3 separate regions of the Homo sapiens genome follow, and regions 1 and 3 are each linked to region 2. Evidence: fine-mapped expression QTL. A gene starts in region 2. Each other region holds a variant in brackets. All regions are shown on one strand. Distances are between the middles of the regions.

Region 1 (10,790 bases), 66 kb after region 2:
CCTACCTTCAGTGATTTTGCAGTCTGTTGAGGAATATAAACAAATAAACAGGAAATTATAATGTTACGTGAAAGACTCCTAGAGCTAAGCCAGGCTCGGTGGCTCACACCTGTAATCCCAGCACTTCGCGGGGCTAAGGCAGGCGGATCACCTGAGGTCGGGAGTTCAAGACCAGCCTGACCAACATGGAAAAACCCTGTCTCTACTAAAAACACAAAATTAGCCGGGTGTGGTGGCACATGCCTATAATCCCAGTTACTCGGGAGGCTGAGGCATGAGAATTGCTTGAACCCGGGAGGCAGAGGTTGCAGTGAGCCAAGATCACGCCATTGCACTCCAGCCTGTGCAACAAGAGCAAAACTCTGAAAAAAAAAAAAAAAAGAAAGAAAAGGAAAGGAAAGGAAGGAAGGAAGGAAAGGGAGGGGAGAAGAGAAGACTCCTGGTGCTAAAGATCCCAAAGGAGCACTTTACCCCACTCTGACAGGTTTAGGAAATTTTTCCTATGGTAAGTCACAGCTGAGTGCATACCCAAAGATGAGTAGGAGTTATGTAATGTTGAGGGAAAGAACTTTCCTGACAAATCCAGTAGCACGTCAATGGCCTGTAAACGAGGAGGACCTGGCTCAGTGGGCCCTGAAAGCCCTGGATTGCTTGCGTGGCTGAAGTAGAAGTCTACAGGGGCTGGAGAAGGGAGCAAGGAAGGACCAGACCGAGGAGAGGGGTGAACTGGAATTTAATCCTGAGGAATAAAGACATTTAAATAGGGTGTCAGACTTATTATTTAAAAAGAGCACTCCGGCAGTAAAGTAGAGAATGGATTAAAGTGGGGACCAGCCTGGGCACAGAGAGATTATCAAAGAGGCAATTACAGTAAACGATCTAGGAGAAATGTGGATGGCCCTAAATAAGCCGTGAGAATGAAAAGCAGTGGAAGTTAAAGATATGGAAGAGAGAAAAATCTACAGAACTTGGTGATTGATTGGTTTAGGGCAATGAGAGAAAGGAGGAAGTCAAATAGAACACAGGATTACATTGTCCTGTGTAGCAATTTAATTTTTTTGAACACTCCCAGTAACAGTAAGAGAGAGATGCTAGTATTATGTCTGCTTTACACTTGAGCAAGCTTGGAGAAGTTCACTAACTTGTTTAAGTTCAGGCTAGAAAGGAGTATATATTCGCTATTCAAACCTAGACAAACTAAAATATAGACTGAGCTTTTATTTTCATATATCAAGTACAAGACATAAGAAATAATAATTTTTGAAATATCAATTCCTGTTTAACATCAAAAGTTTTATGATTGTATCCTATTTTCTGAGTCTCAAGTCTTTGTCCGTAAATGTTCACGGATACCCAAAAGTGTTGACATTTGAATCCCAGGTTATAGCAAAGAGGACAATAAAGCGACTTGCAGGATCTTCCTTTGTTACTAATGGAATGTCCAACAGCAGAAGAAGTGCAGAAGTCCTGAGAAATGATGACTCTAGGGATTCTGCTTAGGCAACTCATTTATAAAAATGAGAGTCACAACAGGAACATTTACTATAATCAGAAAGATAAACTCCAAGGTTTTTAAGATTACTTTCAATTAAATGACAGACTGATTTCTGACTTCTCAAGAGACCAGGTAAACCAGAAAACAGTAACTATTATGTTTAAACTACTGGCTGGGTACAGTGGCTCATGTCTGTAATCCCAGCACTTTGGGAGGCCAAGGCAGGTGGATCACTTGGGGTCAGGAGTTTGAGACCAGCCTGGCCAACATGGTAAAACACTGTCTCTACTAAAAATATGAAAATTAGCCAGGTGTGGTGGTGGGCGCCTGTGGTCCCAGCCACTTGGGAGGCTGAGGCAGGAGAATGGCTTGAACCCAGGAGGCAGAGGTTGCAGTGAGCCAAGATCACACCACTGCACTCCCACCTGGGAGACAGAGTGAGACTCTGTCTCAAAAAATAAATAAATAAACGACTGAGAGAAAAGTACAGCCAACTTAAAATTATCTAACCTGCAAAAATGTCACTTTAAAATGAAGGTAAAATAAAACTTTTTCAGACCAAAAAAAACCTAATAGAGTTTATAACTAGTGGACCTTCACTAAAGGAAATTTCAAAGGATATACTTCAGGCTGAAGAGAAAAGCTACTCGATGGAAATCTGAAGTTCAGGAAAGAATGAAACACAGAAAGCATGATAGAGCTGGGCGTGGTGGTATGTGTCTGTAATCCCAGCTTCTCAAGAGGCCAAAGTCAGAGGATTACTTGAGCTCAGGAGTTCAAATCCAACTGGGGAAATTAGCAAGATCCTGTCTCCTAAAGAAACAAAAACAAAAACAAAAAAAAAACAAAGCATGATAAATAAATATGTGAGCAGCTGGGCTCAGTGGCTCACGCCTGTAATCCCAGCACTTTGGGAGGCTGAGGTGGGTGAATCATTTGAGGTCAGGAGTTTGAGACCAGCCTGGCCAACATGGTGAAGCCCCATCTTTACTAAAAAATACAAAAAATTAGCCAGGCGTGCTGGTGCACACCTGTAATCTCAGCTACTGGGGAGGCTGAGGCAGGAGAATCACTTGAACCTAGGAGTCAGAGGTTGCAGTGAACTCAGATTGTGCCACTGCACTCCAGCCTGGGCAACAGAGTGAAACTCCATCTAAAAAAAAATAAATAAATAAATGAAAATAAAAAACAAATAAATATGTGAGCAAATATAAATTTTTTGACTCTATAAAGCAATAATGTCTTATAGAATTAAAAACATAAAATTAAAATTAAAATTAAATATACAACAGCAGTAACAATTTGAGAATGTTATAAATTGAGTCAAGTGGGCCTGGTGCAGTGGCTCATACTGTAGTCCCAGCACTTTGGGAGGCCAAGGCAGGAGGATCACTTGAGCCCTGGAGTTAGAGGCTGCAGTGAGCCATGATCACTTCATTGCACTCCAGCCCGGGTGACATAGTAAGATCCTGTCTCTAAAAAAAAAAGAAAAAAAATTCAGTCAAGTACAAGAGATGATTTAAAATATGAATTAGATTTTTATTTAAAATTAATATTTAAAATAATTAGATTTTTAAAATATAATAGATTTTTATATGTTTAGTATGCATGCTGAAATTTCTAGGATAAACAATTAAAGGAATAGAGACACCGTGTATACATTCCAAACTAGCAGAGAGAATAAGTGAAATGTGAATCAGTTAGAATAGGCTTACTTGTGCTGCAGTAACAAAGAACCTCAAAATGTCAGTGGCATAAGATTTATTACTCATTTCTCCTACACGTCCATCATGGTCCAGCAAAGGGGTTCTCCCTACCATAGTCACTTGGGAACACAGGCTGACACAGGCTTCATCCTGACACACAATTCCACAGTAACAGAGGCAAAGGGAAGAAAGCATGGTAACCTGCAGGCCAACTCTTGATCCTGCTGCAAGAAGGGACATACATGACTTCTACTCACACATAATTGACCACAGAAAGTCACGTAGTCACATCTAAGTACAAGGGACAAAGAAGTAGGATCCTTCTAAGTGCCTGGAACAAGAGAACTAAACACCTGTGATTAGCCTTAATGGCTTTTATGGAGTGATATAGAAATACACAACTAATCCAAAAGAAGGGAAAACAGGAGACGAAAAAGAAATACCAAACAAACGAGACAAATAGAAAAGACTAAATAGATGATAGATGTACACTGAGGAAGATGGAGATGAATAATTGCAATAAATATAAATGGTCCAGTTAAAACACAACACTGATGGAGGAAAATCTAACTCTATGATGTTTACAAGAAATACTTCAAAAATGTAAGAATTCAGAACTCTGGAGAATGAAAAGATAGAAATGATAAAAATTGCAGCATAGTCATGCTTTAGAATCCTTTAGGGCAATAAAATTGAACAAAATATATCCCTTGTAGCAACATAAATGGATTGAATAAACATAAGGTAGTTCAGTCACAAAAAATATATATACAATGAGATTCTATTTATATAGCATTCAAGAACAGGTGAAATTAAACTGTAATGGTTAGAGACGGATACATAAGTGATATAATTATAAAAAGAAGAAAGGAAATTGTTATCTCAAGCATAATTTTTTTTTTTTCTGGAGGGAAAGAAAGTGCCGTGGTCAGGAAAGAGCACATGGTTGAGAGCTTCAGAAATACTGCCATTGTTCTGTTTCTGACCTTGGCAGAAGTCAAAAGGGTGTCTGCCTCATAGATATTCTTTAAACTTTGCCTACATGTATGATTTTGGCACTCTGGTACGTGTGCGTGACTGTGTGTGTGTGTGTTATATAATGTACCTTATAATTTTTAAAAAATGCTTAAGAAGTAAAGATTTTATTAGATGATTAGATGTGAAAATCAGGAGGTCATGGATTCTTTGCTACAGTAGTTTCAGAGCGTCCTTTTTCCAGCTGAAGAGAATATTAGAGCTAAAGGAACAGAGTCAACAAGGAGCTTGGCAATGAAGAGAAGGAGCCAACTGGTAAGTAGTTTCGGAAGGCTGCGTAGAAGGTGACATGAGATTGTCCATATCCTAAGGAGTCAGTACAGAAGACACTGGAAATACAGGGCACAGATACAGCACAGTCTCAGGAACTGGGCAAAGATGGGATCCAGCTCACAGGCAAAGGTACAGGAGAATGTCCTACCTATAAGAATGTTGGAGGCCAGGCACAGTGGCTCACGCCTATAATCCCAGCATTTTGGGAAGCCAAGGTGGATGGATCGCCTGAGGTCAGGAGTTTGAGACCAGCCTGGCCAACACGGTGAAACCTCATCTCTACTAAAAATACAAAAAGTAGCCCGGTGTGGTGGCAGGCATCTGTAATCCCAGCTACTCAGGAGGCAAGGCAAGAGAATTGAGTGAACCCGGGAGGTGAAGGTTGCAGTGAGCTGAGATCATGCCCCCGCATTTGAGCCTGGGCGACAGAGTGAGACTCTGTCTCTTCAAAAAGAAAGAAAAAAAAAGAATGGTAGAAAGGAAGGGAAGTAGGTACCAAAATGGAAACGGACGCAGCCAAGAAACAAGGAAGTTGACCAAGAATATGAACAGAAGAGGAAGGTCCTTTCAGCAATGGAACCTACTTCTACAACTGGAACTTAAGTCACTATCCCCCTTTGCCTCAGACTTGTTCTGAAACAGGGTTCGGAGAATGTGTGCATCAC[C/T]TGTGTTGTCTGGATCATGGGGAAAGATAACTGGTACGGAATGACCTGTGACCTGTCACTGAGAGGGCTCACTTCCTGTGCATTAAATCACAGCTACTGTATTCAGATTCATTACACATATTAAAATATGACATTCATCTCTCAGAATATTTCTTTTTTTTTTTTTTTTTTTTTGAGACGGAGTCTCGCTCTGTCGCCCAGGCTGGAGTGCAGTGGCGCGATCTGGGCTCACTGCAAGCTCCGCCTCCCAGGTTCACGCCATTCTCCTGCCTCAGCCTCCCCAGTAGCTGGGACTACAGGCGCCCGCCACCACACCCGGCTAATTTTTTTTTGTATTTTTAGTAGAGACGGGGTTTCACCGTGTTAGCCAGGATGGTCTCGATCTCCTGACCTCGTGATCCACCCGCCTCGGCCTCCCAAAGTGCTGGGATTACAGGCGTGAGCCACCGTGCCCGGCCAGAATATTTCTTAAGTAATTCAACGTATATCACAACTGTAATTTCTTGTTTTTCTTTTTGAGACGGAGTCTCGCTCTGTCGCCCAGGCTTCAGTCCAGTGGTGTGATCTCGGCTCACTGCAACCTCCACCTCCAGGCTTCAAGTAATTCTCCTGCCTCAGCCTCCCGAGTAGCTGGGGCTACAGGCATACGTTGCCACGCCCGGCTAATTTTTTTGTATTTTTAGTAGAGACAGGGTTTCACCGTGTCGCCCAAGCTGGTCTCAAACTCCTGAGCTCAGGCAATCCGCCCGCCTCGGCCTCCCAAAGTTCTGGGATTAAAGGCATGAGCCACCGTACCTGGCCCCAGCTCCGTGATCTGTAAAACAGACAAGCTGGATAACTCACAAAACAATAATAAAGAATAACTGAAATGTATATGTATATTGGGGGTGGATTTAAAGAGGGGTGTAGAGTCGGTTCACCTTTTTAATCTTTCCTGTAATACTGACTGATATTTTTCTGGATGAGTACAGATTTACAGACAAAAGTCCTGATTTAGTATTTTAAAGATAAGTGATTTTTGATCTTCTGTAATTTGTTTCTTTATCTGTAAATTAAAGCACCTTATTCAAAGGGTTATTGTGTGAACTAAATAAAATAACCCAGGTAAAGCATCTAGAACAGTTCAGCCAGCTCAGTGATCAGAGTTGCAGCCTTATTTGCCTGAATAATGAAATAATTATTGATTTAAGTTCCCAGCTATGAAACCATATGTCCCAGTTTGCCCAGGATCTGCTCTATGTATGCTGCTGTCCTGGCTTAATTACTAGTAGTATTCCTTCTCACTCTCAAAAGTATCACAGTTCAGACAGTAAATTAGATGGGCACCCTATTCAGAGCACATAGTAAGCTCTCCATAGATATCATTATATTGTTATTATTACCAGTTTAATATAGCTTCTGAAAAGGTCACAATTAACAGGTAAGTTTGGCTGGCACGGCGGCTCATGCCTGTAATCCCAGCACTTTGGGAGGCCAAGGCAAGTGGATCACCTGAGGTCAGGAGTTCGAGACCAGCCTAGCCAACATGGTGAAACCTTGTCTCTACTAAAAATATGACAATTAACCGGGTATAGTGGCATGCGCCTGTAATCCCAGCTACTCGGGAGGCTGAGGCAGAAGAATCGCTTGAACCTGGGAGGCAGAGGCTGCGATGAGCCGAGATTGAGTCACTGCACTCCAGCCTGGGTGACAGAGCAAAACTGTCTCAAAAAAGAAACAGTTAAGTTTACATTCTGAATTAGTAGGAGTGACAATGATTGAAGTTTTTGACTGGGCAGGAAAGATAGACTGACAGTTCCCTCATTCTATCTTTATATAGAACTGGAGAGCAGCACAGAAGGAGGGGGACATGTCAAGGAATACCAGGCGGGCAGAGCCTGCTTTAAGGCATCTTCCAAAGGTTATGAGTCACTGCAGACACACTGAGAGTCACACTGGGGGAAGGTGCAGCAGACAGGGAGAAGTTCAAAGTGGTGTTTCTGAGAGACTTGGGGCACTGTGTACAATTAATCATCTCTCCACATGGGTGACTGTGGGAGCCACAGCAGTGCCTGAGTCTTCCAGGGGAAACACTGAACATGGAAATTTGTGGAAAGGAAACGAAGGAGGTGGATGAAAGCTGGAGGAACAAGTGTTTAAACAATGCAGCTTTTCTTGCCCTGGAAGGTTCTTTGGGTACTAACCTTCTGTGTGGTAGACAGAGGGCGGCCGGGGAGAGGAAGGAAACTACCAAGAGAGAGCAGCAGCAGTCTTGCCTGTGCTCCCCTGTGGTGCCCTTTCTTTTGAACTCTTTCTTGAACCCTTAATCCCTGTCAGGCTCCTGGAGGAGCCTCACTGGGCAGCCTCAAATCTCCCCAGTTTGCCCTGTCCTCAGAAAAGCAGACCATTGAAATTGCTATTTCAGAGCTGGAAGCTGGTCAGCCAGCTCAGATGACCGGAGTTGCAGCTCTTATTTGCCTGAATAATAAAATCATTATTGACTTAAGTTCTCAGCAAACAGTGGGGTATTTGTTTCACATTTCTGAGCTGCTGCTCAAGTTCCAAAAAATGTCCCCTTCCAAAGAAAAGTATTTAAAATTGGATTGAGAGCGAAGAGTAGGTGGAATAGGCTATTGTGGGGGAGGTCCTGGATTTGCAGTGAACTTTCACTGACCTTTCAGCTCCTTAGGGCATGCTCCTTGTCATCTGTCCATCATGCCCAATGGCCAGCCTAAGGGGAGAAAATAGAGTGCTCTCTCCATGATGGCCAAAACTACCTGCCTGGCTGGCTGTCCGTCCGTTATCATCTCAGTCTCTAACCCACTTCTTGCTGCTCCTGATTCTATGCCCACTTAACTTGTCAACTGTGACTTTGTGGAACATAATATAACAAAAAAAGGCATGGGCTTTAGGGAAATTGGCCCCAATTTAGGCAGGAATTTGAGCCCCAGTGCCACTGCATAACCTAAAGCTAATAACATCATTTTGGTTATCTGTTATTGCATAACACACTTACTAAACAGTACTTTTTATTTTATTTTATTTTATTTTTTTAGATGGAGTCTCCCTCTGTCACCCAGGCTACAGTGCAGTGGCATGATCTCAGCTCACTGCAACCTCTGCCTCCTGGGTTCAAGCTATTCTCCTGCCTCAGCCTCCTGAGTAGCTGGGACTACAGGTGCAAGCCATCATGCCCAGCTAATTTTTGTATTTTTAGTAGAGACAGGGTTTTGCTATGTTAGCTAGGCTGGTCTTGAACTCCTGACCTCAAGTGATCCAACTGCCCCAGCTTCCCAAAGTGCTGAGACTATAGGCATGAGCCACCTCACCTGGCCTTACTAAGCAATACTTTTATTAGTTCTCCTGATTTTATTATTTAGGTATAAACCTGCAGTCTTAACCAGGGTGAGTGAAGTGGGGGTAGAAAAAAAGTTCATATCCTGAACCTTTTTTTAGCAATCTTGTTTACTATAGTGGTATGAACAAAGCATTCTTAAACTACTTTTGATTTATTATAAGAGTGAGCAAATAAGTACAAGGGTTAATGTTGTTAATCACGCTGTGGAAGAAAGGACATGCAATTATGGAAGGGAGGAAGGCAAGGAAGAACCCTGTGAGGATGGATTGAATTAAAGGTATCTCTGTAAACTAATAATTTTTTAAATATGTATATGTACATATGCATACACATTTATGTATGTGTACATTCTTTTGTGGATAAATGCGGGCATATATTTCTTAACTCTGTTCACTAAAAAAGCCTTGAAACAAAGACACTCCAGCAGCAAAGAACACACCTACCAAGATCTTGGTCTCTAACACCATCCCCCCACTAAAAAATCAGGGCACCTTAGGAAAATGACTGAGGTGGAGCAGGTGCAAGATGAGGCTGGAACATATTGCTATGCCGCAAAAAAATGAAGTCCTGAGAAAGCAGAAAGGATAGCATATCACAGAGACACGGAAGGTAGCTTGAAACGGATCTCAGTGGCCAATACTGGGACTATTTGGGCACCAAAATATTAACTACAATAGTGAATTATAAGCCATTGAAAAAATAAAAATTTGTGAGTCCTACTGGCAATTAATATAAACACAAATAAACCAATGTGAAGAACATAGGGTTTTGCTTACAGTAGAAAGCTGAAAGCTAGCTGTTAAATGTGGCATGCAGAAACTTAAAAATTATCATTTTGTCACTACCATAGCAAAAAGTGGATTAAGCAAGAATTATCAATGCATGCTAAATCTAGGGGAATTTTTTTTTTTGAGATGGGAGTCTTGCTCTGTCACCCAGGCTGGAGTGCAGTGGCACAATCTCGGCTCACTGCAACCTCCACCTACCAGGTTCAAGAGATTCTCCTGCCTCAAGCTTCCCGAGTAGCTGGGACTACAGACATGCACCACCACACCTGGGTAATTTTTGCATTTTTAACTAGAGACGGGGTTTCACTATGTTGGCCAGGCTGGTCTCAAACTCCTGACCTCAAGGGATCTGCCCACCTCGGCCTCCCAAACTGTGGGGATAACAGGCATGAACCACTGCGCCCAGCCAATCTAGGGGAAATTTTGAAAAGAAACAGGGTGTTTACAAGACCTTAATGTATCCCCTCCACAAACTGTTTATTAGTAGAAATGGAGAAAAAAATAGCAATTATATAATGAAGATAACTGACAGCATCTTCCCTGGGTGATCACAACTGACATCATCATTGCAGGACACATGGATGTTTCATGCCTCCAGGCTTATTGCCCTGAGGACACAACATCACCTATGCAGTATTCTGAAACAGAATGCATAACCTGAATTTAATCATAAGGAAGCATCAGACAAACCCAAAATGAAGAATGTTAAAAAAGGAGGTGTCTTATAAAACTAAACACACTCAGGCCAGGCACGGTGGCTCACACCTGTAATCCCAGTACTTTGGGAGCCTGAGGCAGGTGGATCACCTGAGGTCGGGAGTTTAAGACCAGCCCGATCAACATGGTGTAACCCCGTCTCTACTAAATACAAAAAATTAGCTGGGTGTGGTGGCACATGCCTGTAATCCCAGCTACTTGGGAGGCTGAGGCAGGAGAATCTCTTGAATCCAGGAGGTAGAGGTTGCAGTGAGCCGAGATTGTGCCATTACACCCCAGCCTGGGCAACAAGAGCAAAACTCCATCTCAAAAAAAATAAAAAAAAAATAACTAAACACACTCTTAACACATAATCCAGCTGTCACTCTCCTTGGTATTTGCACAAATGAGTTAAAAACTTATGTCCACACAAACACCTGCACATGGATGTTCATAACAGCTTTATGCATAACTGTCAAAGTTTAGAAGCAACCAAGGCGTCCCTCAGGAGCTGAATAGATAAATTACTGTGGTACATCCAAATAATGGAATATTATTCAGCACTAAAATGAAATGAGCTCTCAAGTCATGACAAGACATAGCGGGACCTTAAATGAATATTATTAAGTAAAAGAAGCTATTCTGAAAAGGCTACTACTGTATGTAGCTGCTACTACATACTTTATGTACTGTATGATTCCAACTATATGACATTCTGGAAAAGGCAAAACTATGAAAATGGTAAATAGATCAGTAGTTGCCAGGGGTTAAGGAGGAAGGGAGAGACAAATAGGC
Region 2 (10,790 bases):
TGTTTCTCTGGCTTTCCCGGTGGTCCACCCCTTATTTGGATAGCTGCATATTGACTCTCCTTAGGTATCTACCCTTCCTCTTTTGTGTGTAGTATTGGTGAGGCTGTCCACTAAGGTCTGCAGTCCCCTCTACTGAGCCAAGCGATGGTTATGAGATCCAAGCTAGCCTAACTGAAGTCTCATAGGAAACAAGAATATGTCACCCCAAAATATGCCTCCAGGTTGAAAGTCCTGTCAATTAGCATTTTTGCTGCTCTGCATCCTTACTGGCTTTGATGATGTCAGTTTTCACTGCATTTTAGTCATTCATGTAGGTGTGTAGTATTATCCCATTGTTTTAATTTGCAATTTTCTAATGACAGATTGAAGGGATTCACAGCCCACCAATATGGCAAAACTGCCCTTGCAGAGTTATGGAGTGTTGCAAGCCAGGCTCTAGGCAGAATTGCACATTAATCATAGCATGCTGGTACACTTCAACCCACTTCCCTGTAGCTTCTAATTTCCCAAGTAGCATGCTGACCACCTACTCCCCGATTGTTCCTATAGGTAGAATCTCCAATACTAGAATCATGAAATCTTTTTGCTTAAGAATTGCTTAAGGTGTTTTTCTGATCCTGAATTCCAGTGCAACAGCTAATGCTAACCAGTCTAAAGACCCCTACCAAGGAACTGGCTTGGCACATGAATGCTGAGTTTCTTCATGTCCCTGTCCCATGACTTCACCTCTCACTTCTTGATGAATCAGAAATGCTCACATTTTGGCCCTTGTCCAGACTCCTTAAAAACCCTATCCCCAAACCCAAAACCAAATTGTAGGTTACCTCCCATCTACTCATTTGGCTGCCCTATGAAAATTAAACTCTCTCTTTTTCAATCCCTGTTTTCTTAATATATCCATTTGTTGTGCATCAAGTAACAAATCTGTTATGATGATAGTGGCATGAAAATTATTTTAAACTGAAAATGTCTGAACAGACAGAAGCTGCAGAAAGAAACACTATTTAAACTTAACCAGAGCCTCTTGAAAATTCAGCTGCCATTGATCCCCTTCAAAGGTATTTTCCTGTTTGAAACGAGACAGCCCCTTAGCACTGGGATGTGTAAATTAGCTTCCATAAACCCCCATACAGGGAAACTTCCAGCCAGGAAGAAATCAATCTACCCATTTCTATTAGCATCAGAAAGCTTACTAGAACCTTCCATATTTTCCTTTTGAAGCCCCAACAAAAATCTTTTATTTTTTATTTTATTTTATTTTTGAGACAGACTTTCACTCTTGTTGCCCAGGCTGGAGTGCAGTGGCGCAACCTTGTCTCACTGCAACCTCCGCCTGCCAGGTTCAAGAGATTCTCCTGCCTCGGCCTCCCGAGTAGCTGGGATTACAGGTGCCCACCACCATGCCTGACTAAATTTTGTATTTTTAGTAGAGACGGGGTTTTACCATGTTGGCCAGGATGGTCTCAAACTCCTGACCTCAGGTGATCTGCCCACATTGGCCTCCCAAAGTGCTGGGATTACAGGTGTGAGCCACCATGCCCGGCCAAATCTTTTTTTAAAAAATAGAGATGGGGGTCTTGCTATGCTGTTGGTTTCAAACTCCATGCCTCAAGTGATCCTCCTGCCTCAGTCTCCCAGAATGTTAGGATTACAGGCATGAGCCACTGCACTTGGCCAAAAACACTTTTTTTAAAGTTGATATATAACTTTACCTCTGGCTATTCAGCAAGTTACGCATTATGTAATACTCCTGTGTGCATGTGTAAATAAACTTTGAATTTTCTCCTATTAATCTTTTTCTAATTCACAAGCTCCTTTACCACCACCTTTAAAACCTAAAATGATAGAGGAAAAGTTTTTCTCCAAACAATGTGATGCTGAACATCTTTTCATTGCTCATCTGCCATCTGTATATCTTGTTTGGTGAAGTGTTGGGGTACAGAGAATCATACTACAAACTATGATGCATGGCATTCTGAGCACTTTTGAATTAAAGAAATTAAATTAAAGAATTAAATTTAACTAGAATTAAAGAATTAAAGAAACCAAAACTTCTTAGAAGCTGCCTCAGGACCAAAGATGTTCTAATCTTCTCTCATTCCTCCCCCAGCTCTCAAATGCAGAGAGGAGCTCTCTCTGGAAGTTCCCTTGTCTGGATAAGGAAAACTTCTTCCAAGAAATGCAATTGTCTTAAGACCCCCCTTTCTAAAAATCTCATCAGATAACCAGGAAATATTAGCCACCTGAAAAAAAGAAGAGACTAGAAGTCTCTTCACACCACACTCAGATAGACCTTTCATCTATTCTTCCAAGAGCAGCTCCAAAAGAGTACCTAAGAGACTTTATCTGTATAATAAGGCAACCTTTGTTCATAGTGCAGTTCCACCCTTCACCTTCCCATAACTCGTCACCCTTCCATTCAGCTTCCAAAGAGACTCATTTACAAACTATTGTCTGCTATTTGGGGCCAGTTCCCTAAAAAATATTTAAAACTCCTCAAAATTGCCTACATTTTCCCCATGTTCCTCTCCCCTATGAAGAGAATACATGAATTTCAACTATTTAGTCTTTCTTTGAGTCTCATAATTTGTATGGTTCCCATGATTATGCACAGTAATAAATTTGTATGCCTTTTTCTCCTGTTAATCTGTCTATTGTCAGTTCATTTCAGAAGTTTTGAACCTTCAGAGGGAGAGGAAAAATTGTCTTTGCCCCATACCATTCAGATGTTTTGCCCATTTTTCAACTAGGTTGTTGGTTTTCTTATGGTTGAGGTTTTTTGAGTTCTTTGTATATTTTGGATAATGTTCTTTTATCAGATATATCTTTTGCAAATATCTTCTCTCAGTCTCTGGCTTATCTTTTTATTCTCTTAATAGTATCTGTTGCAGAGCAGAAGTTTTCAATTTTAATGAAGTTCCACTTATCAATATTTTTCTTTCATGGATTGTGCTTTTGGTATTGTATCTAAAAAATCATTGCCAAACTCAAGGCTGCCTAGATTTTCTTCTATGTTATTTTCTAGAATTTTTGTAGTTTTGTATTTTGCATTAGGTCTATGGTCCATTTTGAATTAACATTTGTGCCAGGCGCGGTGGCTCACGCCTGTAATCCCAGCACTTTGGGAGGCCGAGGTGGGCGGATCACCTGAGGTCAGGAGTTCGAGGCCAGCCTCACCAACATGGTGAAACCCTGTCTCTACTAAAAATACAAAATTAGCTGGGTGTAGTGGTGCATGCCTGTAATCCCAACTACTCCGGAGGCTGAGGCAGGAGAATCACTTGAACCTGAGCGGCAGAGGTTGTGGTGAGCTAAGATCATGCCATTGCACTCCAGCCTGGGCAACAAAAGCGAAACTCCATCTCAAAAAAAAATTGTGAAAGATATAAAGTACAGGTCTATGAAAATGTATGAAGTCTAACCTATGAAAAGATTTATTTTTTGCATGTGTACATTCAGTTCTACTACCATTTGTTGAAAAGACTAACTTTTCTCAATTGAAAATTGATCCTTTGTCACAGATTAGTTCACTGTATTTGTGTGGGTCTACCTCTGGGCTTTCTACTTGGTTCCATTGACCTATTTGTCTATTTTTCACCAATAACACACTGTCTTAATTGCTGTAGCTTTATAGTAAGTTTTGAAGTTGGGTCACGTCAGTTTTCTGACTTTGTTCTTCTTTTTCTGCATTGTGTTGACTATTCTGAATCTTTTTTTTTTTTGAGACAGAGTCTCGCTCTGTCACCCAGGCTGGAGTGCAGTGGTGCGATCTCGGCTCACTGCAAGCTCCACCTCCCGGGTTCAAGCGATTCTCGTGCCTCAGCCTCCCAAGTAGCTGGTACTATAGGCGCCCGCCACCAGGCCTGGCTAATTTTTTGTATTTTTAGTAGAAACGGGGTTTCACTGTGTTAGCCAGGATGGTCTTGATCTCTTGACCTCGTGATCAGCCTGCCTCGGCCTCCCAAAGTGCTGGGATTACAGGCGTGAGCCACCGTGTCCAACCTGAATCTTTTACTTTTATATAAACTTCAGAGTCAGTTTGTCACTATCCACAAAATAATGTGCTGGGATATTGATTGAGATTGTGCTGAATCTATAGATCAAGTTGAGAGGAAATGACATCTTAACATATTGAGTATTCCTACTCATGTACATGGAATATCTGTGCTTCCTCAATTTCTTTCATTAGAGTTTTAAATTTTTCCTCATACCAATTTTTACATAATGTATTAGATTTACACCTAAGTATTTCACTTTCTTTGGTGCAATATAAATGGTATTGTGTTTTAAATATCAAATTGCAATTGTTCATTGCTGGTATATAAGAAAGCAACTGACTTTTGTATATTAACCTTGTATCCTGCAACCTTGCTATAAACAGACATTATGTTTATTCTGCAGACATTTGGAGCCATAAAAGCATGGGGCAAGAGTGTTGTACTATTATATCTTGTTCAAAAAAAGACTAATCTGGAAGTAATATGTAGAATGGATTGGAAGGAGAAAAAAACAAGGCAAGGAGTCCATGTGGGAGGCTTTTATGTGAGCCCTCCATAAGACAATGAGTTTCTGAATAAGGGTGTTGCAGTACCAGTGAAAAGGTAAGAACAGATTCAAGAGGCAAATATCCTAAATTCGGCCTTCTTCTTCAGGCTTACAGGTCTTTTCATACACAATTCTGTCTTTGGGAGGCGCTTAACACTCTCTTCACCTAACTTCTAATTATTCCTCAAAATTCAGTTCAGGTGTTGTGCCCTCCAACAATCCTTCCCCTCTACTATCTTCCCGTAGCCTCCTGCAGTGTCCTCCATCACACTGTAAGTGCTATTTATATTAATATAATCTACTTGTCTATATACTTACCTGCCTGTCTCTAATCTCTTTCATTAAATCATGAGCTCCTGGCAGATCACGAGGTCAGGAGATAGAGACCATCCTGGCTAACACAGTGAAACCCCGTCTCTACTAAAAATACAAAAAAATTAGCTGGGCGTGATGGCAGGCACCTGTAGTCCCAGCTACTCGGGAGGCTGAGGCAGGAGAATGGCATGAACCCAGGAGGTGGAGCTTGCAGTGAGCAAAGATCGCACCACTGCACTCCAGCCTGGGCGACAGAGCAAGACTCCGTCTCAAAAAAAAAAAAAAAAAAAACTCATGAGCTCCTGAATTTGTGTAGCCTAGTACCTGGCCCAATAAGTATATGCATAAATGAATAATGTATTCACTTCTGTTGTAGGAACTTACAACATTACCAAGTATGTGGCAGGCATTATATCATATTTATGTGACATATTTTCTCTTAAGAAACAGGAATCATAAAGCTTCAAAAAAAAACACTGAAGCCTCAGATGAGGCAGGAAGCACTCATTCCATATCAGGAAGTGATCAGTTCCTCAAAACTGTGAGTTTTCAGTCATGTTGTTTCTTTAAGTTGGTTTAGCCTTCCTGTATACATGTGATAATGATACTGTTTTAAAGAACAGGTGTGAAAGTCTAAGAGTTTAATCCAGACTCTGCACAAGAAGTTAATCTGCCAAACCCTAGGATTCTCCTTCTGAAAGCTCAGAATATTTCTTCCCCTTCCCTATACACACAGGGCTCGAAGGGTTAGAGAAGAAAGGCAGACAACAGCTTCTGAGCTTTGGACTAATCACAGCCTCTGTTCTCAGCAGGAGCCCCAACACTGAGACCAGGTAAGAAAGAAAGCCTCAGGGCTGGAGCGAGTAGAGCAGTAAAGACGGCTGGGAGGTAGTGGTCAGATAGAGGGTAAATATTTCAGGAGGGAAGAGGGAAGAAACTTTCTGATATGACAGCCATCAAATGCATGAGTACTTGTGAAAGAAAATGGGATATGCCAATCAAAGGAGAGGTCATATTTCTGTTTCCTGGGCTTCAGGTTCTTCATAGAATTGTGAGACTATGTGAGAAAGAAGATTTTAAAGGGAGCTGTAAAATCTTAAAAGGCAAAATAAAAATCTAAATAGTTATGATTAAAAATTTTGCTCTTATTGCTTCTCCTACTATAACTATCTTCTCTCTTTCTACACAGAAAAGATGGTGCTATGCTTTCCTCTTCTTTTACTGCTGCTGGTTCTATGGGGACCAGTGTGTCCACTTCATGCTTGGCCTAAGCGTCTCACCAAGGCTCACTGGTTTGAAATTCAGCATATACAGCCAAGTCCTCTCCAATGCAACAGGGCAATGAGTGGCATCAACAATTATACCCAGCACTGTAAGCATCAAAATACCTTTCTGCATGACTCTTTCCAGAATGTGGCTGCTGTCTGTGATTTGCTCAGCATTGTCTGCAAAAATCGTCGGCACAACTGCCACCAGAGCTCAAAGCCTGTCAACATGACTGACTGCAGACTCACTTCAGGAAAGTATCCCCAGTGCCGCTATAGTGCTGCTGCCCAGTACAAATTCTTCATTGTTGCCTGTGACCCCCCTCAGAAGAGCGATCCCCCCTACAAGTTGGTTCCTGTACACTTAGATAGTATTCTCTAAGGCATCCACTGCATTTCCTTTCATTTGACATAGCTTCTGTTACAATTGCATCCATGTTTTCTTTTCTTTTGTTGATTTTCTTGTTCCCGTAGAAGAAAGAAGAAAGGTGTTTGGAGAATTCGAGTGCCTAGGATGCCAGACCAGAGTTGAGACAAAAAGAAATAAGATTATTTTCTGCTTTGTAGTTCTGTACTTTTCGAGAGAAGGGAATAGGGAAGACAGCAAAGAAAGATTCAGATTTCTAACCCTGCAACTTTTGCCAAGCTTTATTGCCCTGTGTTCACAGCAATAAAACCACTTCCTGCTGCATTCTAATGAGTGTGTGTTTGAGATCCGCTTTCAAAGCATTGTTGACCGGTACTCAGAGGAACACTGTTTTGACTTTAAGTCCCTAGAAAACTTTTGAGGCCTCCCTGGGGCCCCACTTCCTTGCCCACAAGAAAGGACAGCGTTTGGGACTTTGGAGCATTTCTTCAAACTCTGCTCATGACTTTATATATTCCCCTGGAAACCATTGTCTATGCTTAATTGGAGGTAGTACTGATACCTCAAAGACAGTTGATGATAACTCACACATAGATTCTGTCACTGGCAACTGAAGGATCCTATGTCTTTTCTATTTGTTTCCGTTTTTAATCAGATAATGTTTTAAATATAAGGTGATAGTAGTAGTAATAGGGATAATAATCCATTGTAGTAACCTTAGGGTCAATCCTCCATTATTTATTGAAATGGATAAATAGAAAGCATAGATCAAGAAAAAAGCACTAGGCTTGTCGTGGTGGCTCACGCCTGTAATCCCAGCACTTTAGGAGGCTGAGGCAGGTGGATCGTCTGAGGTCAGGAGTTCAAGACCAGCCTGGCCAACATGGTGAAACGCTATCTCTACTAAAGATACAAAAAAAGTAGCTGGGCGTGGTGGCAGTGCCTGTAATCCCAGCTACTCGGGAGGCTGAGGCAGGAGAATCGCTTGAACCCAGGAGGTAGAAGTTGCAGTGAGCAAATATTGTGTCACTGCACTCCAGCCTGGGCAACAGAGTGAGACTCCCATCTCAAAAACAAAAAAAGAAAAAGAGAAAAGCACCAGGAGACCCAATGCAGTGGCTCACACCAGTAATCCCAGCACTTTGGGAGGCCGAGGCAGGCAGACGACTTGAGGCCAAGAGTTTGAGACCAGCCTGGCCAATGTGGTGAAACCCCATCTCTACTAAAAATACAAAAAATTAGCCAGACATGATGGCAGGAGCCTGTAATCCCAGCTAATCAGGAGCCTGAGGCAAGAGAATCGCTTGAACCTGGGAGGCAGAGGCTGTAGTGAGCCGAGATTGCACCACTGCACTCCAGCCTGGGTGACAGAGCGAAACTCCCGTCTCAAAAAAAAAAAAAAAAAAAGGAAAGAAAGAAAGAGAAAAAAGCACTAGGAAACTAAAAACATTCTAGTCCTATGTAAATACTGAAATACCACAGAAGTATTGGGGTTTTGGAACAGAACCTGAACTAAGCCATTTCACAGAAGGAACTTCAGTTTCCTTGTCAACCTCTAGAGTCATTGGGCTAGTGGGCCAGTGTAAATCCCAAGTGCTTTGTACAGTGATGAGTCTTCAAGTAGCAGCCAAAGACAATGAAGTTTTTTTGAAAAGGCTACATATTGTAGTGTCTTCATTACCTGTGCTGCAAATGATTCTTTCCAAGCCAGACTATTAGTTTAATAGATATGCTAACTCAGCTCACCTTCCTTTACGCTACACATTTATGTCATATCTTAGGAACAAAGAATGGAATATGAGGTTTCAGGAGCCTGGATTCCAGGGTGATGACTGATCAAGGGCCCTCCCATTGGGAAGAGATTAGCAGGTCAGGGCAATATGGCACCTAAGAAGGTGGGTACCTTATAGAGGGAATCCTACAGTGGGACTTGAGTGCTCTAACTCAAAGCAGCTTTCAGTTGTATTCAGCTTTAAGCCATGTTGCATTTACATTTTATTGTCTCAGAGTCTTCATGTAAAGTGTGGTGGAATGGCAGGGAGAATCTGTGCTCACGTTTGGTATGAACAAGTATACGAAAGTAGCAGCATCTGAAAGGAAAGGGGTTGAATGGATTTATATGAACATTACCTGGAAATTGCCAGAGATTCTTAAAGGTAATCTAGTAAAACCAAACAACTCAATTGCTCATGCTATTGTTATTTATATAGTAAAGGTATCTCATGGATTGAATACATCTGTGCTGCAAAAATTTTTCAACTGTCAGAAACATTAGGGAACATGAAATGTTACTTAAAATTAGTGAAATAAATTGTGAGGTCTAAAATACTGCAAATATTTTGTAACAAATGGTTAAAAACAAAAATATAATGAGTGCCATCTTTTGAAGAGATTTGCAGCAACAATATCTAATCTTCCCCACCCTCCCATGACAAACCTATCCCCAACAACAATTAGAGTCACTTTTTGTTGCTGATCAAGGAAAAGGCAACAATGAGGGTAACTTTTCAACAATCTATTATGCCCAAACTTTTAGAAGGTATTAGTTCTAAACAAGTGGAATAGACTGGGATGGAATCTCTCATAGATTTATTTTCTTTTCTACATGCAGTTATGTATTGCAGAAGTTCAATACATAATTGCTAAGAAGTTCACTTAGATATATCCCTAGAATATACAGAATGATCCCAAAGCAGGCAAAGCTTAGAAGTGAATTCAGCAGATGTTCTAGCAGCTCTCAACTCTGGCTTCATATTAGATTCACCTGGGAGCTTTTAGAAAAATACCAATGACGGGATCTACTAAATAAATTTTATGAACATTTAATGAACAATTAAATGAATATCTGGGGGTGAGACCTGGGCTCTAATGGATGTTTGTTAAAGATCCCCATGTAATTGTAATGGGCAGCAAATATTGGTAACAACTGTTGATGCAGGGGTAAGCAAACTACATCTGCAGACCTCTGGCCTGCCGCGCCTATTTTATACTGCCTGGAGTAGTGTGGTTTTTACTTTTATTTTTTTTTTTGAGATGGAGTTTGGCTCTGCCGCCCAGGCTGGAGTGCAATGGCTGGATCTCGGCTCACTGCAACCTCCACCTCCTGGATTCAAGCGATTCTCCTGCCTCAGCCGCCTGAGTAGCTGGGATTACCCGCCACCACGCCCAGCTAATTTGTTTGTTTGTTTGTTTGTTTGTTTGTTTGTTTTTTGAGACGGAGTCTCATTCTGTCGCCCAGGTTGGAGTGCAGTGGCGCGATCTCAGTTCACTGCAAGCTCTGCCTGCCGGGTTCACGCCATTCTCCTGCCTCAGCCTCCCGAGTATCTGGGACTACAGGCGCCCGCCACCACGCCCGGCTAATTTTCTGTATTTTTAGTAGAGACGGGGTTTCACCGTGGTCTTGATCTCCTGACTTCGTGATCCACCCGCCTCGGCCTCCCAAAGTGCTGGGATTACAGGCGTGAGCCACCGTGCTTGGCCGATTTTTACTTTTTTAGGGGGAGAAGAAAAAGGAGGAGGAAGAGGAGGGGGGGAAGAACAGGAAGAAGGAAGGAGTAGAGACGTGAGGGAGGGGAAGGAAGGGGAAGAAGAGGAAGAAGAAGGAGAGGAAGTGACACAGACCCTATGTGTTCCACAAAAGTGAAATATTTACTGTCTGGTCCTTTATAGAACAAAGTGTGTTGATTCCTGGTCTTCTAGACTATTCAATGGATCTTGTCCTTTGGCTGTGGCTGAGGCAGGTGGCTGGAATTCAGTAGGAAGGACGACACCTGGCAGGCTGAGAATTTTGAACTGGGGCCTCAGGAAAGTAATGATTTTTTTTTTTTTTTTTTTTTTTTTTTTTTTTTTTGAGACGGAGTCTCGCTCTGTCGCCCAGGCTGGAGTGCAGTGGCGCGATCTGGGCTCACTGCAAGCTCCGCCTCCCGGGTTCCCGCCATTCTCCTGCCTCAGCCTCCCCAGTAGCTGGGACTACAGGCGCCCGCCACCACGCCCGGCTAATTTTTTGTATTTTTAGTAGGGACCGGGTTTCACCATGTTGGCCAGGATCGTCTCGATCTCCTGACCTCGTGATCCGCCCGCCTCGACCTTCCAAAGTGCTGGGATTCCAGGAGTGAGCCACCGCGCCCGACCGTAATGAATTCTTAATATTCCTTTCTGTGCCCTGTTTCAGTCTTTTTCTGCAATGTACTCATTTCCTCTGCTTTTCTTTTTCACACAGTAAGTAGACAGTCATCCCTTTCCATCTCACTTTCTAATTTTCTCTGAAATATTATTTATTTTTGAAGGGATTCTGACTG
Region 3 (9,209 bases), 32 kb after region 2:
CAATTTCAGAAACCCTTGAGCTCCCTTGACCAAGAGTATATCCACTATCCTTTACGGATATACAGGCCACTTTCTTGGAGACACATAGGTTATCCCCCTATGAGTTGATACCGGGAAGGTCCATGCATTTAGAGATTTCACCTCCAATACTAGAGTCTGTCCTACTCCATGCAGACATGACAAGATACTGCAAGGGACTCATGTATTGTACGTGGTCCTATCACCAACAGGTTAAGGTCCCCTTCCTACAAAATCTTCCTAAACAACCTCTCCATGATCCTCAACTAGTGGATTTGTCTACTGGAAGAAAAATCAGAGAATAACTGCTTTTGAACTTCATTCAAAAGGAAGAGATCTTATCAGATACTGTTAACAATAGATACAGCAGTGAAACTCCAAGGAGCCAACCTTTGGGTTCATGTTTCACAACTGAAGAAGAGATTCAAAATTCCACACAGTTGGAAGGCCACTTCGATTTTGTCTGCACCATTGCCAGTGCTTCTTGTGATACTTAGGTCAAGGACACAGGCAAGGTTAAAAAAAAAAAAGACTATATTGCTTCAAAAAAAAACCTATTAATATTTGGATCTCTAAGGTCCTCATGGCTTATGGGATTTGTTTTCTTGGCCTAGGTTAAGCAATTGGAGTTCCTGGTTCTAAAGCATCTCAGAGGGACTATCAATTGTTTCTTATTTTTCTGATAGTGGTCATGATGCTAGTCTGTTCCGTTTTATCCAGAGTTTTAAATGCTTCTAGCAGCCACTCTGTCATCAGATGATTGCCATAATGATACAATAGAAAGATCAAGAAGATCTTACAATCCAGGTCACTATGAAGATGACTGAACAATTTATGATTGGTGAAGATGTGAAATTCTAACTTTCTCTGAGTTGGTCAACTTCTCAGAAGTCAGAGAATGACCAAAAGGAGGGACTGAAAGACTGACCATACAAATGAACAATGACCAGACCATATATAAAGATGGAACTCTGACCTGTAGTCTCCAGCAATAAGTATGAGAAGCCAACCCACTATATACAGCAAACAATCCAGGAAGCCAAACAACTCCTATAGCAATTGGCCCCAAACAGCTAGGACTTGATTACCCCTATTTTATTTCTTAATTTTTTCCTTGCTTGAAAGTCTCTCTTTATGGACTTGATTAATAACTGAAAAGTTCCCTAATATTTATTTCCGCTTCCCCAAATTAGGACCAATCAGAGAAAGCCAATATGCATCCCTAATCCAACACATAGGATGCCCTGCTTCCAGTAGCCCACTTACAGCTTCTGCATGCCGCAGCCTGCAACCAGAGCATCCCTGAAGCCTTTCCTGTTTTCCATTGTGAAGATTCCCACTCTCCTGCCTACTGTGAGTGTCTGCCAAATGCAAGTGATGGTGGTTACCTGCCATCTGTGGCCAACTCTGAATAAACAGCCTTTGCTTATTCTCATTTGGGTGGCTGTGCTCATTTCCACAAGCTCTTTAGAAGAATAAGGAAGTGGGTATGTACAGGGTAAGGACGTTTTTACAAGAAAAGCTCAGATAATCTGAAGGATGTCCTATCATTAGGCTGGCTACAAAAGCTCAGCACAGCCCCCCAAATACACATGTACGAGCACACACACACCCTGCATGCACGTACATACAATATGCACACACACATACAATAGATGATATTCCGGGATTCCTTTTGAACCCCAGAAAGTGAGAAGGCAAAGGAAAATTAGAACAGGAAAAGACGGAACAGTGGGGGCAGACAAAGGGAGCGGAGTGGTGTTTGAAAGTTGAAGGAAGTGAGGGGAAAGAATGCAAGAACCAGCTAAAAAAGATCCGAAGCCCGTGCTGTCCCACGCCTCTCACCCATTGCCTACAACCCAGATGCCCATGAAGATAAAGTAGGATAACAGCCAAGATGACATCCCTCAACTCATTCCCTTTATTTTTTATTTTTTTATTTTTTATTTTTGAGACAGCTGTTGCCCATCTCAGCTCACTGAAACGTCTGCCTCCCGGGTTCAAGCAATTCTCCTGCCTCAGCCTCCTGAGTAGCTGAGATTACAGGCACCTGCCACCATGCCTGGCTAATTTTTGTGGGGTTTTCTTTTTAGTAGAGATGGGGTTTCGCCATGTTGGCCCAGCTCGTCTTGAACTCCCGACCTCAAGCGATCCGCCCGCCTTGGCCTCCCAAAGTGCTGGGATTACAGGTGTGAGCCATCACACCCAACCAACTCTTCCTCTTTTGTAGGAAGCTCATTTCTGGCCTGCAGAGTCCTCTTCCCTGAATCGTGTGCGCTTAGGCCACTTACTGGCTAATGCTGACCTATGATGGATCAAGGAGCAGAACTGGGCAAGAGGCTACAGTGGAAGTGGCAGAGTCAGAGACCTCCATCTTAAGTTCCCTCCGTCTGGGGACTCTTTCTCTCTTCTGTCTCTCAGTGGCCTCAGACATTAAAGAATTTGGGACAGATACATTTAAGAGTTCATTCTCAGCCATGTCTGAGGAAGTATGTCTGAGTCTGAGGGCGTTTGAAGGTATGTGAGGGGCAGGAATGCAGCTTCAGAAAAGCTGTGCTTCGTCTTCAGTTCTCAGCCTCTCCTTCCTGAGCTCCTTCCCTGTCTGGCTTCTTCCACACATCTATACAGAGACTGTCTGTCTGTCTGTCTTTTATTCTTAAGAATCCAGAATCATTTAGAACCCAGTCAGGGCCAGGCACGGTGGCTCACGCCTGTAATCCCAGCACTTTGGGAGGCTGAGGTGGGCAGATCATGAGGTCAGGAGTTCAAGACCAGCCTGGCCAACATGGTGAAACCCCCGTCTCTACCAAAAATACAAAAATTAGCCAGGCATAGTGGTGCATGCCTGTAATCCCAGCAACTCAGGAGGCTGAGGCAGGAGAATCGCTTGAACTGGGGAGGCAGAAGTTGCAGTGAGCCGAAATCACACCACTACACTCCAGCCTGGGTGACAGAGCGACACTGTCTCAAAAAAAAAAAAAAATGTAGCTCCTATTTAAAAGGACTTCACTCAGTGAGGGTGGATATAGCTGAATCATTTTCTTCGGGAGAGCATCTGCTGGCTCCCCAAAATCTCTTTGCAGAAACTTGTGATAAGCCTGAGTGCGAAGGAATGGTGTGAGGGGGAAACATCCAATTGCAGGAAGGTGAGAAACAAGGAGCTGGAGTCTGGTGGGCTCCAGAAGGTATGAGTGCAACTGGCCTACCTCATGTTCTTGGGAGCCTGAGTCTCCTCCTTAGAAAGTGACTCTGCAGTGAAGACATCAGATTTCTTAGTACTTTTCCCAAAATGCCAACTTCTCTGTCACTGAGCATGACTGGGCTATCCAGGTCCCAAGTTTGAATTTTTGAAGGGAGGACAAACTTCAGAGTTCAAGGTGGTCTCCCCAGACCACAGTCATGTCAGGAAACCGCACCAGTGACTGGCCTGCTGCCAGGCTTCGGTGAGGATATGAAGGGAAGTACATTTTTGCCCTTTTCACAGAGTGCCTGGAAATGAATCCCTGAAATCCTCCTAAAGCCAAAGGCAGCCCTAGACGGTTAGAGCTACACCACACCCAAGGGCTCAGGGCCCCAAGGAACCTCCTCAGAGACAGGCTGTGGGAAGGCCCACCCCTCCCATGTTCTCTCAGGAAACACATCTGCCCCCGTCCCAATCTACACAGTTTTCCTGACTGGAGCAAAGGTCAATTTGAACTGCAGGAGCTTGGGAGATTTTATGATCCTATGGGCTAAAGAGTCTCTTAGGAGACAGTATAGCCCCTCAAGCCCAATCCAAAACTAAGCATTTATGGGCCTCAACTGAGAAACCCCCTCCCCAGTGAAACATTATGCAAGTTTTTCCTAATTTCTGTCTCCCGTCCACATTGCAAC[G/A]TTTTGCCTCATGTGACAAACCAATTACTGAAGGGGAAAAGGCAACCGTGGCTGTGCTGGCTATCATTCCTGTGTTTATTCCCCTTTTATAAGACTCTCCACCTCTCTGTCCATTAGGCTTCCACTCCCACCCCCAATCCCACCCCACCCCCACCCCACAGTATGAACTGGGAGAGAAAGAGGTTCTGATGCCTGAGCCCTTGGCTGAGGCCCACCAAGCACAGGTTCTACTTTCCCAGACAGTGGCTCTGACTGGCCTGTGAGCACACCAGGTGCAGTCAACAATCTGGTCTCCAGAACACACAGGGGGCCTCCACCTCCTCTGGTGCCACCATCCCAGCCTCCTGACACTACCAGTTTTCCTCACTCTCCATAGGTCCCTTCCCACCCCACAGACCAGCCCTGGTCTTTTAAAATGGAAATCAAATGTTGCCAGGGTGTCTATAGAAAGATAGAGACTTCGTTATCTCTGGTTCCTGATTACAGAAGACCTGATTCCCTTTCAGCCTGGGTTGTTCAGTGGTCTCTTGACTTCATCCATTTTCTGAGAACTTTTCCTATCCCTGACTCAACCCAACACCACCATTCACCTCTAGATCAGGCACCAGTGCCTCTCATCCCTTCCCTAAGGGACAGCCCACCTGCCCCAGCCCCTCTAAGAGCTTATTGCTGAGGTCGTCAAAGTATGAACTTTTGACCAGGACTCCCACGTGAAAGAAAATATGGACATTTACCTTTGAACTCAAGGAACAAAAAGACCCAAGCAATGGAAAGTAACTTCCGCCCATTGGAGGAGACTGAGAGCCGGGGCAGACCAAGGTCAGACAGCACCTTGGCAGCAGAGGTGGAAAGCATCCTCGGTCCCTGGCTTCCCCACTCTGTGGCAGCATTCTCACTATACCATGCTGGCAAGTATGCTTCAAGTGGGGAGACTGCCTCCAGGATGTGCACTCAAAGGGCTGAACTTATGGTGAAACTGATCTCTTCTTTTAGGTCTGGATTTCCCCTAGAGTCCCCCCACATCTCTTCCTGCTGGGAATTGTGGTGGGAGAAAACAGATGGCTTTGCTGCTGACCCCTTCTGAGGAGTTGGAGGATTGGGGACTCCTACTGAGGTCTCATTAGGGGCCCTTCACTGGCGCAGCTGGAGTGTGGGTGAGCAGGTCAGGCCTCCCGCTCTTCAGTCCATGGGGGCATTTGTTGATTCCAATGCGACACTGGAGGAAGGGAAGCCTTCTTAGGGGGACGAGGCCTCTAGGAGGACACCTGCTCCAAGCAGTAGCCTCCCTCTCTTTGAAGAGGTCTCACATGCTGGCTTCATCAAGGAAGCAAGGTCTGGAGGAAAATCATTGCTTAGAAATGTTTCTGGCTGGGCGCAGTGGTGCATGCCTGTAATCCTAGCACTTTGGGAGGCCCAGGTGGGCAGATCACTTGAGGTCAGGAGTTAGAGACCAGCCTGGCCAACATGGCGAAACCCTGTCTCTACTAAAAATACCAAAATAAGCCGGGCGTGGGAGCACATGTCTGTAATCCCAGCCTCTAGGGAGGCCGAGGCAGGAGAATTGCTTGAACCCAGGGGGTGGAGGTTGCAGTGATCTGAGATCATGCCACTGCACTCCAGCCTAGGTGATAGAGTGAGACTCTATCTCAAAAAAAAAAAAAAAGAAAAAAAAAGAAAAAGAAAGCAATGTTTCCTTTCACATCTGCCATCTCCTGCCTCCTCCTTCTGTTAATCTTGAGGACTCTCACAATGGCATGACAGTACCTCTTTTCCCATAGGAGGACATATTGCCAAGGGACAAAGCACATGGATGGGGGAGCCTATCAGGTCTATCAAGGTGAAGAGAGGCCAGTGTTATCTCATTTAGAGAACAAGACTCACATTTGCTTAAATGGAGCCTGTTATCTGTCACTAAATTCAGCCTTCTGACCCATTGTCTGACCTGCTTCCATCACTCCAATCCAATCTGGCTGAATTCCTGCCCACTGAACATGGTTCGTGTCACACACGTCTGTATGAAGGGAGTCCACCAACAGGCTTTATGTGAGCAACAAGGCTGTTTATTTCACCTGGGTGCAGGTGGGCTGAGTCTGAAAAAGGAGTCAGCAAAGGGTGATGGGATTATCATCGGTTCTTACAGGTTTTGGGATAGGCGGTGGAGTTAGGAGCGATGTTTTGAGGGCAGGGAGTGGATCTCACGAAGTACATTCTCAAGGGTGGGGAGATTACAAAGAACCTTCTTAAGGGTGGGGAGGTTACAAAGTACATTGATCAGTCAGGGTGGGGCAGAGACAAATCACAATGGTGGAATGCCATCAGTTAAGGCTATTTTCACTTCTTTTGTGGATCTTCAGTTGCTTCAGGCCACCTGGATGTATACCTGTAGGTCACGGGGGTATGATGGCTTAGCTTGGGCTCAGAGGCCTGACATTCCTGTCTTCTTATATTAATAAGAAAAACAAAACAAACTAGTGGTGAAGTGTTGGGGCGGCAAAAATTTTGGGGGGTGGTATGGAGAGATAATGGGCGATGTTTCTCAGGGCTGCGTCGAGCGGAACTAGGGGTGGTGTGGGAACCTACAGCGGGAGAGATTTAACTGAAGAAAGATTTTGGGGTAAGGGGTGATATTGTGGGGTTGTTAGAAGGAGCATTTGTTGTATAGAATTATTGGTGATGGCCTGGTTGCGGTTTTGTATGAATTGAGAAACCAAACAAAAGACACAAGGTCTGAATAAGAGAAGGAGAAAAACAGGTATTAAAGGACTAAGAATTGGGAGGACCCAGGACGTCCAATTAGAGAGTGTCCAAGGAGGTTCAGTGTAATTACTTGTTTGGTTGGTGAATTTTTGGGCTCTATTTTTGACAGAGTCCTTTTTGCTAAGTTGGAGGCTGAGCTTGGCGAGGTGTGTTTTGAAAAGACCATTAGTCCGTTCTACCTTTCCTGAAGATTGAGGATGGTAAGGGTTATGAAGTTTCCACTGAATACCAAGAGCCTGAGAAACTGCTTGGGTGATTTGACTAATAAAGGCTGGTCCGTTATCGGACTGTATAGAGGTGGGAAGGCCAAACCGAGGAATTGTGTCTGACAGAAGGGAAGAAATGACTGCGGTGGCCTTCTCAGACCCTGTGGGAAAGGTCTCTACCCATCCAGTGAAAGTGTCTACCCAGACCAAGAGGTTTTCTAGTTTCCTGACTCGGGGCATGTGAGTAAAGTCAATTTGCCAGTCCTGGGCAGGGGCAAATCCCCGAGCTTGGTGTGTAGGGAAGGGAGGGGGCCTGAATAATCCCTGAGGAGTAGTAGAATAGAAGATGGAACACTGAGAAGTGATTTCCTTGAGGATAGATTTCCACAATGGAAAGGAAATGAGAGGTTCTAAGAGGCGGGCTAGTGGCTTGTAACCTACATGGAAGGGGTTATGAAACAACGACAGAATAGAATGGGCCTGTGAGGCTGGGAGGTATTGAGGGTAGGAGAGTATATGGGTTTGGCACCACGGGGTGGATAGGCAAGACAATTTGGTTGATAAGGTGCAAATCCTGAACTAACCTGTATAAAAGGCCATGCTGTAACAAGCAACTGATAACAGGCTTTAATCCTTTTAAAGCCTGCTGTGGGATGGGATACTGGTGTTGAGCAGGGTAAGGGTGATTAGGTTTTAATGGGATGACAAGGGGTGCATGATCGGTTGCCAAGGAGGGAGTAGAGGTATCCCATACTTGTGGATTAAGGTGGAGAGATACAAGGGGAAGGATGCGAAGGAGGCTTTGAACTGGGGAAAAGGGTGGCAATGAGGTGTGGCTGTAGCCCAGGAATAGTCAGGGAAGCAGATAATTTAGTTAAAAAGTCTCGACATAATAAGGGAGGTGGGCAGGTGGGGATAACTTAAAAGGAGTGCATAAAAGAATGTTGTCCAAGTTGGCACCAGAGTTGGGGAGTTTTAAGAGGTTTAGCAGCCTGGCCGTCAATATCCACAATGGCTATGGAGGCAAGTGAAACAGGACCTTGAAAAGAATACCTTCTTAAGGGTGGGGGAGATTACAAAGTACATCTATCAGTTAGGGTGGGGCAGAAACAAATCACAATGGTGGAATGTCATCAGTTAAGGCTATTTTCACTTCTTTTGTGGATCTTCAGTTGTTTCAGGCCATCTGGATGTATACGTGCAGGTCACAGGGCATATGATGGTTTAGCTTGGGCTTAGAGGCCTGACAGTTGTCACTTCTCCAGAACAGCCAATCTTTTTTTTTTTTTTTTTTTTTTTTTGAGAGAGAGAGAAAAAGAGCGAGACACAGAGAGATAGAGACAGAAAGACAGACAGACACACACACACACAGAGAAAGAGGTCCAAACAGAGGAAAGGACAGAGGAGAGCAGCTTCTTGCAAGAGAGAGAGAGAGAGAGAGAGAGAGAGAGAGAGAGAGACAGAAACACACACACACACACACACACACACCTCACAGAGGTCCAAACGGAAGAAAGGAGAGAGGAGAGCAGCTCCTTGCAGGAGAGAGAGAGAAAGAGACAGAGAGAGACAGACAGAGAGATAGCCAGAAAGAGAGACAGAGAGAGACACCCAGAGAGACAGAGAGAGAGAGAGAAGGAGAGAGAGACGAGAGAGAAAGATCCCAAAAAATGGAGAAGGGCCAATCTTCAACCTCTCTCTGCCATTCTGGTTCTGCCCCAAACTCAACTCTACTTCCTATTTTTCTTTTTCTTTTACCTATTTATATCTCTCATACAGATGCTAAAAAGCAGACCTCAGCAGAGCTCTGGTTGTTTTATGTGAGCAGAAGCGGGTATCCTACTTAGCACATACACATGTGAGGAAAAGTGTGGGTATCTGTGTTTCTGCACTAAGGTGTGGGATTTGTTTTCTACAAGCCCCACACATAACCCAGCCCCCTCCACAAGCTGGGTCTTGATGCCTTTGCCAGTAGGTCACTTGGTGACTGAGGTCAAGTCTTGTGACCTCCCTGTGTCTTAGTATTATCCCCTAAAGAGTAAAGAACAACAATCTCTAAGATGGCTCCCAGTTAAAACATTGAGTTTTGTTTGTTTTTTGTTGTTGTTATTGTTTTTCTTTTGAGACGGAGTCTCACTCTGTCGCCCAGGCTGAAGTGCAGTGCCACAATCTCAGCTCACTGCAACCTCTGCCTCCCAGGTTCAAGAGATTCTCCTGCCTCAGCCTCCCAAGTAACTGGGATTACAAGTGCCTGCCATCACACCCAGCTAATTTTTGTATTTTTGGTAGAGACAGGGTTTCACCATGTTGGCCAGGCTGGTTTTCAACTCCTGACCTCAGGTGATCTGCCTGTCT

What was found. PIP is the estimated chance that this variant, and not a neighbour inherited with it, causes the effect.
Region 1: its variant is the best candidate, but not a certain one, in a credible set for the expression of RNASE6 in lung (TOPMed, PIP 0.72).
Region 3: its variant is the best candidate, but not a certain one, in a credible set for the expression of RNASE6 in monocytes after interferon gamma (Fairfax 2014, PIP 0.75).

Annotation. Positions count from the first base shown.
Region 1 is chr14:20,841,667-20,852,456 of GRCh38, forward strand. No RefSeq gene overlaps it. Among named protein-coding and RNA genes, the nearest start is that of RNASE1, 44 kb to the left of the region's middle. The variant C/T (reference allele first, on the strand shown) is at 5,175.
Region 2 is chr14:20,775,646-20,786,435 of GRCh38, forward strand. RNASE6 (ribonuclease A family member 6) reads left to right here and starts at 5,623. Exons shown (of 2, transcript NM_005615.5): 1 at 5,623-5,693; 2 at 6,050-6,822. The coding sequence starts at 6,055. The coding sequence ends at 6,507. The region is part of intron 1 of LOC107984671 (a long non-coding RNA gene); the gene reads right to left. RefSeq lists an enhancer at 6,698-6,767.
Region 3 is chr14:20,808,628-20,817,836 of GRCh38, forward strand. It overlaps LOC105370397 (a long non-coding RNA gene), which reads left to right. Exons shown (of 4, transcript XR_007064063.1): 4 at 1,212-1,274. Among named protein-coding and RNA genes, the nearest start is that of RNASE1, 10 kb to the left of the region's middle. RefSeq lists an enhancer at 5,142-5,642. The variant G/A (reference allele first, on the strand shown) is at 3,892.